3 linked regions of the Homo sapiens genome follow. The protein of the gene in region 1 purifies or fractionates together with the protein of each later gene. This does not show direct contact. Each region holds a gene or a part of one and is shown on either strand. Other genes may lie near its edges. The genes, in order: PTPN9, CERT1 and QTRT2.

Region 1 (3,658 bases):
GATGATTTTTCTACATTTACTTGGCCAATTTGGGGAACAGACCTCCACTGTGATTCCATACTCTCTCTTTGCTTTCACTATCCCAGGGATGGGAGGCGGAGGGTAGAGATGAACTCACTGAGCAGCCAGAGCCAAATGCAATCGGTACGAATCTTAGAAGGAAGGAGGGGGAGCCCAGGTATGAGAAAGAAAAAACCACTAAGAAAATACCTCCCTGGGAGGATGAGCTGGGGCCCTTTTTCTTTTGCTGGATGGTTCCTTTATGCAGCTTGGCCCTGTCTACCGAGATGCCCATCTCTTCCTGCCTGCTAGCCTGCTAGACCCTCAAACTGGGTGGGTTCTGTGTCAATAAAAAGCTTCACCCCCTGGCTGAGTGAGGTGGTCCCCTGCAATCACTGTTTGTCCCCTACCCACCCAACCTGTCCCTGCCTGCTCCCAGCCCACTCATCCTTATGTGCTAGGGATAAATCAAGAGTCCTCAGCACTCCACATTCCCAAAAAATCCCAGGAACTCCTAAACCTTCCCCTGTGACAGAAGATGAGGTTGGCAGCTGATCAGACCTCAATAATTTTATACTGTAATAAGCTCTTTGAATGTGTATATTATTATTTTTTACAATCATTTCATTTTGTATTTAATATCAATGGACTGAGTCTGATTCAGAAAATAATTGTAATGTTCATATTCAATATCTTACAGTGATACAGTTTTGTATTTACATATAAATATACCGACATGATCAAAACCCTTTTAGCTTCATCAATTTAGCAGCCTGGGACATGAGGGAGGGGGTCCAGGAGCTGGTCTGGGAGGGATGAGGGAGGCAGGGAGGGACCCAAGCCTTCAGTATCTGAGACTTTGAGTTCTGACACTATGAGTTCACCTTGTCTGTAGGCCATGGCCCTATCTCTGGACAGAGGGACCAGCACCAGTTCAGTGCTTGAGATGTGCTAAGCACTATGCTAGGTGCTTTTCCCCCACCCTGCCTCATTCAAACCTCACAACAATTCAGTGAGATATTATCTTCTCTCCCTTCTCCTGTGCACCCCTTTCTCATTTCTATATAGATGAGGAAGGTGAGGTCCAGAGGGTTACAGTGATTTGCTCTAAAACGAGCTCAAGTTGGTCTGCTTACAAAGCCTGTGGTCTCTTCACTGCATGGAAGATGGAGATCTTGTGTTTGGAGAACAGAGGTTTGTTTAGCTCTCCTTTCAGAGTAAAAAAAGTTCTTAAATTCCAGGTTGTTGTTCTTGTGCCCATGCTTCATGTAGTAGACGCGAAGGGTGACAGGGTTGGTGACTGACTGTCCTAGCTAGGACCTCCTGATGTAGGGTCCTCATGTCTGCAGCGTACCAAAGGGGTTATCATTCTCCCCAGGAGACTCCATATCTATGGGTACATGGTCTTTGTGAGAAGATCTTGAGTCATTTGCATTTATCTCTTAGAAAGAAAGGAACCAGAAGCTTTGTACATGGAAGACCACTCCCCATATCATACCTGTTGGCTGTTGATGGCCTGCCCAGTTGGGGCAGTTGTGGCTGGGAAATATTGGGGTGTTCTTAATAATAGTCATAGCAGCCAATTTACTGGATGCTCACTCTATTCCAGGCACTGTTCAGAGTAATTTCTAGGTATCATCTCATTCACCCTCAACAACCTTTTGAGGTAGGTATTGACAGAAGAAAAAAATTGAGAGACAGGAATGTTAATTTGCTACAGCCAGGATCCCAGACCATCTGACTCCAAAGTATCTTCTTTCACCTCTTACACTAGACTTCCTCTAAGGATCCATCTTCTGATCTGCCAATAAATTTTTATCGAGTTTCTTACCATAATCAGGAGCTCAAGTGTAGAGCAGAAGATTAATCTAGTTCCTTCTCCAGATGAGCCTCCATTCTCTTGGGAGTGCACAAACATAAGAAGTGAACAGAGATTCTTGGAAATCTGAGAAACCAGAGAGGTCAGGGGTTTGGTGGAACATGTAAGAAATGGGATTAATGATAAACGGCCTGGAGGAGGTAACTTTAAATTGTCATTTATTTGAAGAGGCTGTAACCCGACTGCCCTGTGAATTTAAGGTTATGCATGAGTTCCTCATTGCATATCTGAAGACTGGTGAGGTTATCTATCACTTCAGCTCCATAAAATGCTGATTTCTGGGCCCATCCAGTAGGTTGTTAGTGAGTGACAGGATTATCCAGGTTTGGGAACCATAGATTTAGTTCATGTTTCTGACCCTATAGAGAGTTAACAAATTGATGTCTCCTAAATTTTCAGTAAAACTCAGAGGAACTCCTCCCACTGCCATTGTTTGTAGCTTTTACCAGCGTGAACCTACCTGTGTTAGGTGTTAAAGGAGGAGGTAAAGGAAAGGGAAGGCAGAGACGCAACCCAGAATCTGTTTGGCAAGTCAGGGTTCTCATACAGGAGACTTAGTGAACAAAGCAAGAGAAAATGCTCAGGGTCCAAGTGCAGTGGCTTTATGCCTGTAATCCCAGTACTTTGGAAGGCCGAGGTGGGCAGATCACCTGAGGTCAGGAGTTTGAGACCAGCCTGACCAATATGATGAAACCCCATCTCTACTAAAAATATAAAAATTACCCGGGTGTGGTGGTATGTGCTTGTAATCCCAGCTACTCGGGAGGCTGAAATGGGAGAATCACTTGAATCTGGGAGGCAGAGGTTGCAATGAGCCGAGATCGCGCCATTGCACTCTAGCCTGGGCAACAAGAGTAAAACTCCATCTCAAAAAAAATAAATAAATAAAAAAGAAAGACAGTGTTCAGGAAAGAAGAAAACACTGAGCTAAAGCAGGCTTCTGCTTCTGATTTGATGGCTGTTTGTTTCACCTTTCTCTAACATTCCCATGCTATATAATTTTTCAAACATGAGATAATCCCTGTGTCCTTTTTCCCATTGCTCCCTTCATCTTGCCCATCCTCATTGGCTAGGATGGGACTCCTGAGACGAAGGGTGCCCCAGCATCCTCAGCCTCGGAGGCCCACCCTTATCAGTCTTCATGTGACAGTATGCAGGTAAATGACAGAGTAGGACTTGTTCTTGGGAGAATGGACTATTTAGCATCATAGCCCTAGGGAAATTTGGTTCCTTCCCTGAAAGGAATGCTTCCTGTCTCTTGGGACAGACAGACACACATACAAAAACTTTTATAAATCAGAGACCTAGAGGGAATTGGGCCAAGAGGCATTGGCCAAGTAGAAAAGCTTCTCTAGAGTGACCCAGCTCTTTTGTGGTTTTGAGGTCTTACCACTGAACCAAACCCAAGTCCTAGGTTCCCTCTGTAAAAGAAGGGGCTACACTAGATGATCCTACCATGGGTCCTCTGACTGTCAGGGTCCAGTTCTTTGTTAGACAGTGCAAACACCCATAGAGGAGCTATTAGGCCTTTACTTGGGTTGAGTTGGCTCCCACTAGCACTCCCCACTTTTCATTTTTTTTACTTTCAGAGACAGAGTCTCACTCTGTTGCCTAGGTTAGAGGGGAGTGGCATGATCATGGCTCACTGCAGTCTCAACAACTGGGCTCAAGCAGGAACCCAGCTTTTTTTTTTTTTCTCTCTCTCTCTCTAGAGACAGGATCTCACTATGTTGCCCAGGCTGGTCTCGAACTCCAGCCTCAAGCAATCCTCCTGCCTCG
Region 2 (2,835 bases), on another chromosome or scaffold:
GCTGGGATTACAGGCTGAGTCACTGTACCCAGCTGGACCAATTATGATCTTTTAAGTCCCAACCCTTCATTCCTTAACACTATCCATCAGACATAATCAGACAGCAAATAAGAAAGCATCTATAACCTTTCTACAATGTTCTTAGTTCCCGAAATTACCTGCAAAAATTAGTATAGCACCACTTAAGGTTATTTAGGGCAGATTATTCACAAATCTGTACTATAATGAAATAGTAACTTACTCAGGTACAACTGTTTCTTTGAACATACTAGCAGTTATGGCCCTGTATAAAGAAGGTATGACTTTTGATGAGAGAGGTTGCAATGATTACTCCAGGTGCAAAGCAGGTGAAGTAAGGACCCAAAGCAAGCAATGAAAAGACCTATCCAAAGTGAAACAAATATATGTAACTAGCAACTAATAAGGACTAGGGAAACGCTGACTCAGAAAACAAAAAGCCTGACAATGAATGTCAAAGAGAAATAAATATGTAACTAGCAACTAATAAGGACTAGGGGAACATTGATTCAGAAAGCTAAAAAGGCTGACAATGAGTAAAAGAACTCTTAATTTCCTTCCCCACTGTTGCTTATATTCCTAATAATAAATCTGTTCTATGAGGCAAATATCTAAGAAAATGGTGCTTAATATGAAGGCTAGGTCGAGCGCAGTGGCTCACGCCTGTAATCCCAGCACTTTGGGAGGCCGAGGTGGGTGGATCACGAGGTCAGGAGTTCAAGACCAGCCTGGCCAAGATGGTGAAACCCCGTCTCTACTAAAAATACAAAAAACTAGCCAGGCGTGGTTGTGGGCACCTGTAATCCCAGCTACAGAGGCAGAGAATCGCTTGAACCCAGGAGGCGGAGGCTGCAGTGAGCTGAGACTGCACCACTGCACTCCAGCCTGGGCAACAGAACGAGACTCCATCTCAAAAAAAAAAAAAAAAAAAAAAGAAGGGTATATACAGTGACCTAGGGATAAAGTTTTAAAATTTTCCTATCCAGCTCTAGCTTCAGAAATACTCATATAGTAGTAGTTCCAGGGTGAAATTCAGACATCTGTACTTTCAAAGATTCTCTAGTAATTCTGATATACCTTTCTCCAAATTAAAAATTAGTAATCTAATGGATAAGAACTAAAAAGGCATTTGTCCAAATTGTTGTCATATAGGTCATGATCAAGAACAGCCACATTATCAAAGAGCAAAAACAATAAAATACATACCATTAGCTACATATGTAATCTTGCATAGAATGTTGTCCCTGCTAATTTCCTGGTTTCCCTCTGGTGGGCTTACCAAGGTTTGACAAATCATAGCAACATTTATTTTGGCACGGACACATCGGTTGTTTAGCTGCCAAAACAAAAAACAAAGCATCAGTAGATACCCAGTATTTTGTAAACTCTGCTGGTCTAATATTATATTAGGTTAACCAAAATCGTAACTCTTAAAAGTATCTCCAGTGAAATCTTATAAGCACCAAGCTGATATGACACCAGGATTCCTCCCCACCCACTTTTTCTGGGGACAAGGTCTTGCTCTGTTGCCCACTCTGGAGTGCAGTGGTGCCATCATAGTTCACTGCAGCTTCAAACTCCTGGGCTCAAAGCAATCCTCCCGCCTCAACCTCCAGAGTAGCTGGGACCACAGGTGCACATCACCAGGCCTGGCTAATTAAAAAAAAAAAAAAAATTTTTTTTAATAGAGATGGGGTCTAACCATGTTGCCCAGGATCCCTTCCTCTTAAGTAGTAAATGGAGCTAAATTGTGGTAAACCACAGAGGTTTGGCTGGCAGTTGATAACGGCTTAAGAGATAACTGTGGGAAGTAGCCTACTGCCCAGTGTATGTACTGCCCTTTTGGCTGTTTCACGAAACATTAGAAGGAAAGGTAAACGGCCCTGGTGGAATGTTCATAGGCATGACTGTTGCCCTCAGACAACACATGGGCTATACTGTTCCTAGCAGTCAATCCAACATAAAATCTAAGAACCATTATCAAATCAAGTATAGTGTATGGGCTGTGTTTATCATTTTTGTCCCGCATTGTGTATTTAGCTTTATATTGTTTAATTATACACATTTATATACATGTACTTACAGGAGCACTGTCATGATCCACAGAAAAATTACAAACTATCCAAGTTTCAGGGTCATTTTCAGTCAAGGCTGGTATCTTTCGAATGACAGAAAGATATAATACGTCTCGCTGAGAAGCAGGCCACACCCTCTGTGGAGAAGTAAAAATCTTTTGAAAAACAGATCTAACATGGAACTAACAAGAGAAACGTAATGCCAATAAATGTCTTAATTGAAGGTAAAATCTCTCAAATTTTAAATGGAAAGCATCTGAGGATATCTACCAAATGATTAATTATGAACAGAGTTAATAGCTTTGCAGAACAATATAATAAAAGGAATAATGTTCTATTTTTTTAATTGCAGTAAAATATATACACGTATAATTTGTCATTTTAACTAACTTTTAGGGTACAATTCAGGGACATTAATTACATTCACAGTGTTATGTAACCATATTGCTATCTCTGAAATTTATCATCATCCCAAACAGAAACTCTGTACCCAGTAAGCAACAACTTTCCATTCCTCTCTCCTCATACTCCATGATTATGTTCTACTTAGATTCAAAGATTTAATGAAAAAAGACTTATTTGAATCAAATCACATTAGAAAGAATTCTAAGTCACTTAGATTAAATATTTCAATATTAAGGTATGCAAGGGGAAACATATACTATGGGAATGACATGGAGCCTAGGTCTTCAATAAATGGGACTACCTACTTTAAATGAGAAAAAAAACCTTTTATCCTATT
Region 3 (3,658 bases), on another chromosome or scaffold:
AAAAACCCAGAGAAAGGATTCTTGAGAGAGAAGTTGAGGGGCATTTTAGCTGGGTCAAGGAAGAGTAAAAGTTACCCAGGTTAGGAGTGGGAGCCCAGACAGGTGTGGGGCAGATGCTGCAGGCACTGAGTATCTGACTCAGCGGTGAGAACTTGCATGGGGCATTCGTGAGCTCCAAAGTAGTCTCATCATGCTTGAACCTCAAACATGCAGGGGAGGATGAAGCGTTTGTATATGGCTGTATTCTGATATGTTAATATTATCCTTTATTCCAGAAATAGGATTTTATATGCAGATGTATGCATCTATTTATTTATAGGAAAAGCTTAGCAGTGACAGCTAGAACATCAGTTCTTCTATACACCGCTTTCTCCTAACGCTTTTTCTGGTATCTAGGACTCACTTGAATGAAAATCCTGTTTCCATTGGTTATTCAGTCTTCTGCTTCTGAGAGCAGCTGCATGATGTCCTGTTGGTTATCACAAAGCCCTGTATTTTAGTAGAGGAATTTATGGAATATCATTCTCCTTGACCTGAGCCCAATTTTAATAACCAGCTTTAAAGTATACAAGCATATAATTAAATGAAAATAGCTAATGTAGGCTTTCTAGAGATAATTGTAATAATTGAAATTATGGAAAATAAAGTGAAAAAACTGCAGAGGTTTTACACTTGCTTTTTTTTCACTGGAATCCTGTTTTATTTTCCTTAACGAAAATGTGGGCTAGCATATGATATTTAGGCACATGGTTTACTAAACTTTTTTTGCATTTTTTAAAAAATGATTGTCTTTTTGACTGAAGAACTTAAGAAACTGTCATCGTGAATCAATGAAACTTACTAAGAATGGGATCCATTTGCAGCATCCTATAGCTTCTCTAAAATTCTGCCCCTAGGGACCCATGATATTATTGAGATTTATTATTAGTGAGATCACTTTGTGGGCATATCATTTTATCTTTGCGGTAGCTAGTTCCCCTTGGATGGTACCTGGAATAAGCATATTTGATAGTAAATTCTTTAAGTAAAGTCAAATGAGATCAACATGTCACTAAATACTTTCATTGTATATTGTGCTTTAAGATACATCTTTCCTTTGTAGCAGCTCAGTACCTATTTATTAGACGTGAAGCTTTATATTTCTTTCTTTAGATTAGTAATCTTTTTATACATATTGATAGGCCTTCTCTAATTCCAAGTTCAGATACAACCTATTGACAGTGTTTAGAGTTGCTTTATTCAGCAGTACACATTGCGAAGCTGCTCCCTGCTATAATACAGTGTCATTGTTGATGTAAGCACTTTCAAGGGTTCTTTTTTGTGTTTATACAGGCATGCCAGAATCACTCTTGTACTGCTCCCTGCACGATCCAGTCAGCCCCTGCCCGGCTGGTTATGTAACAAACAAGGTGTGTTTTCAGAAGGGTCTCCAAGGCTGCAGCTTTGTCCCAGGAAGTCAGCCTATGGTGTATCCCTCAGATGCTCAGATCCCACTGTCTGGGATGATCCCTTATACCTTTTCCTTATTTCGATAATTATAGTGGGATGGGATGGTTTATAAGACTTAGAGTAGGGCTGCCTAAGGATGAGGTTAAGATGAAGAACACTGTATCCTCAGCATTTTCATTGTTGCAAAAAAATTTGAGGGTAGAGGAGGGTCAAATACATGCCAAAAAAAGAAATTGCTATGATAGGGGAAAACGATAGTCTTTCGGCGCCATGCTTTGTTGGATTTTTAACAACTTCAGGAAGAGTGGGGAAAGTTGCTGATGAGTATTATCACATGTATAACTATATATAGTAGAATCTCAATATAATATTGTCTGCTGGGTCTACAGCCAGAGATTTTGTCTAGTGAAGAACAGTATCAAAAGCACCTCATTAAAAGTGTTAGGCTGAGAGGTGGCCCCATTGGCATTATCCCTGAGGACAGCATTCTGGCAAAGCTTCAGTGTGTACTGCTACTTTACAAACGCAAATACTTTTCCTGCACTCACTTTATTAATGTCAGCAATATTTATTAATTGTGCCCCTCAGAACACTGTTTTTACTCATTCTCCTGTTTTAAGTTTCTATTTATTTTGTAGTTTGAATTCTAGAGAAAATACTTTGGCTGGGTATGGTGGCTCATGCATGTAATCCCAGCACTTTGGTAGGCCAAGGTGGGTAGATGGCTTGAGCCTCAGGAGTTCGAGATCAGCCTGTCCAACATGGCAAAACCCCATCTCTACTACAGATACAAAAATTAGCCAGGTGTGGTGGCACACGCCTATAATCCCAGCTACTTGGGAGGTGGAGGCAAGAGAATCACTTGAACCTGGGAGGCAGAGGTGGCAGTGAGCCAAAGTCGCACCAGTGCATTGCATTCTAGCCTGGGTGATAGAGCGAGACTCTGTCTCAAAAAAAAAAAAAAATACTTTGACTTCCATTTTCTACCCAAATTGTAAGGGAGAGAGGAATCATTTAACCAGTAATTCTGATGCCTTAGTATAAAATAAAACGACTATATGTTGGCCTGCCATCTATGTCCTTGTTGATCTGAGAAGAGGGATCTGTAGGGTAACCAAAGATAGAATTTTTTTTTCCCTTTTTTTAACTTTTATTTTTGTTTCGGGGGTACGTGTAAACATTGTTACATAGGTAAATTTGTGTCATGGGGGTTTGTTGTACAGATTATTTCATCACTGAGGTATTAAGCCTAGTACCCAATAGTTACCTTTTATCCTTCTCTCCCTCCTTTCACCCTTCACTCACAAGTAGACCCCAGTGTCTGTTGTTCCCTTCTTTGTGTCCATGTGTTCTCATCATTTAGCCCCCACTTATAAGTGAGAACATGTGGTATTTGATTTTCTGTTCCTGCATTTGTTTGCTAGGGACAATGGCCTCCAGTTCCATCTATGTTCCTGCAAAAGACGTGACCTCATTCTTTTTTATGGCTGTATAATATCCCATGGTATATATGTACCACATTTTCTTTATCCAATCTATCATTGATGGACATTTAGGTTGATTGCATGTCTTTGCTATTGTGAATAGTGCTGCAATGTACATTTGCATGCATGTGTCCTTATGGCGGAATGATTTATATTGCTCTGGGTATATGCCCAGTAACGGGATTGCTGGGTTGAATGGTAGTTTTGCTTTTAGCTCAAAGATAGAATATTACTAATATATACTCTCTTGAACTAGGAGATTTAAGTCTTTAATTCTATATCTAACTCAGTCTAGTAAACACTAGATATTAAAAATGTATAGGGCCCTAGACTGTGCTTTTGGGATACATACATGAATTGGGATACTCTAGTCAGACAAATAAAGAATGGTGTAATAAGTGCTATCATTTCTATAAAGAAATAAATACAAATTGATGTAAGAGCATAGAGGAGTGAGTGATCGATTATGTCCAGGAGGTTTGGAGATCAGATTAATATGTGAACTCAGTGTCTCAATGGACACGTAGTATTTTGCCAGGCAAAGAAGTAGAAGTTCCAGCACCTAGAAATAATAAATACTTGAGGTGATGGATACTTAAATACTCTGACATGATTATTACACTTGCCCTATATGTAAGATGTCTCACATGTACCCCATAACATTATACAAATATGTATCAATAAAAAAAAGAAAAAGAAATACGGAACTGTCAGTCAAAAGGAAC

What was found.
Region 2: the proteins of PTPN9 (region 1) and CERT1 purify together in Homo sapiens (affinity purification with mass spectrometry; one large-scale study listed by BioGRID and IntAct). This does not show direct contact.
Region 3: the proteins of PTPN9 (region 1) and QTRT2 purify together in Homo sapiens (affinity purification with mass spectrometry, with the first as the bait; one large-scale study listed by BioGRID). This does not show direct contact.

The regions. Positions count from the first base shown.
Region 1 is NC_000015.10:75,464,211-75,467,868, reverse strand, and holds part of PTPN9 (tyrosine-protein phosphatase non-receptor type 9), read left to right. Parts: 3' UTR 1-3,658. UniProt on the Homo sapiens protein: Protein-tyrosine phosphatase that could participate in the transfer of hydrophobic ligands or in functions of the Golgi apparatus.
Region 2 is NC_000005.10:75,379,848-75,382,682, forward strand, and holds part of CERT1 (ceramide transfer protein), read right to left. Parts: intron 2,231-2,835; coding exon 2,102-2,230; intron 1,355-2,101; coding exon 1,225-1,354; intron 1-1,224. UniProt on the Homo sapiens protein: Shelters ceramides and diacylglycerol lipids inside its START domain and mediates the intracellular trafficking of ceramides and diacylglycerol lipids in a non-vesicular manner.
Region 3 is NC_000003.12:114,066,655-114,070,312, forward strand, and holds part of QTRT2 (queuine tRNA-ribosyltransferase accessory subunit 2), read left to right. Parts: intron 1-1,332; coding exon 1,333-1,409; intron 1,410-3,658. UniProt on the Homo sapiens protein: Non-catalytic subunit of the queuine tRNA-ribosyltransferase (TGT) that catalyzes the base-exchange of a guanine (G) residue with queuine (Q) at position 34 (anticodon wobble position) in tRNAs with GU(N) anticodons (tRNA-Asp, -Asn, -His and -Tyr), resulting in the hypermodified nucleoside queuosine (7-(((4,5-cis-dihydroxy-2-cyclopenten-1-yl)amino)methyl)-7-deazaguanosine).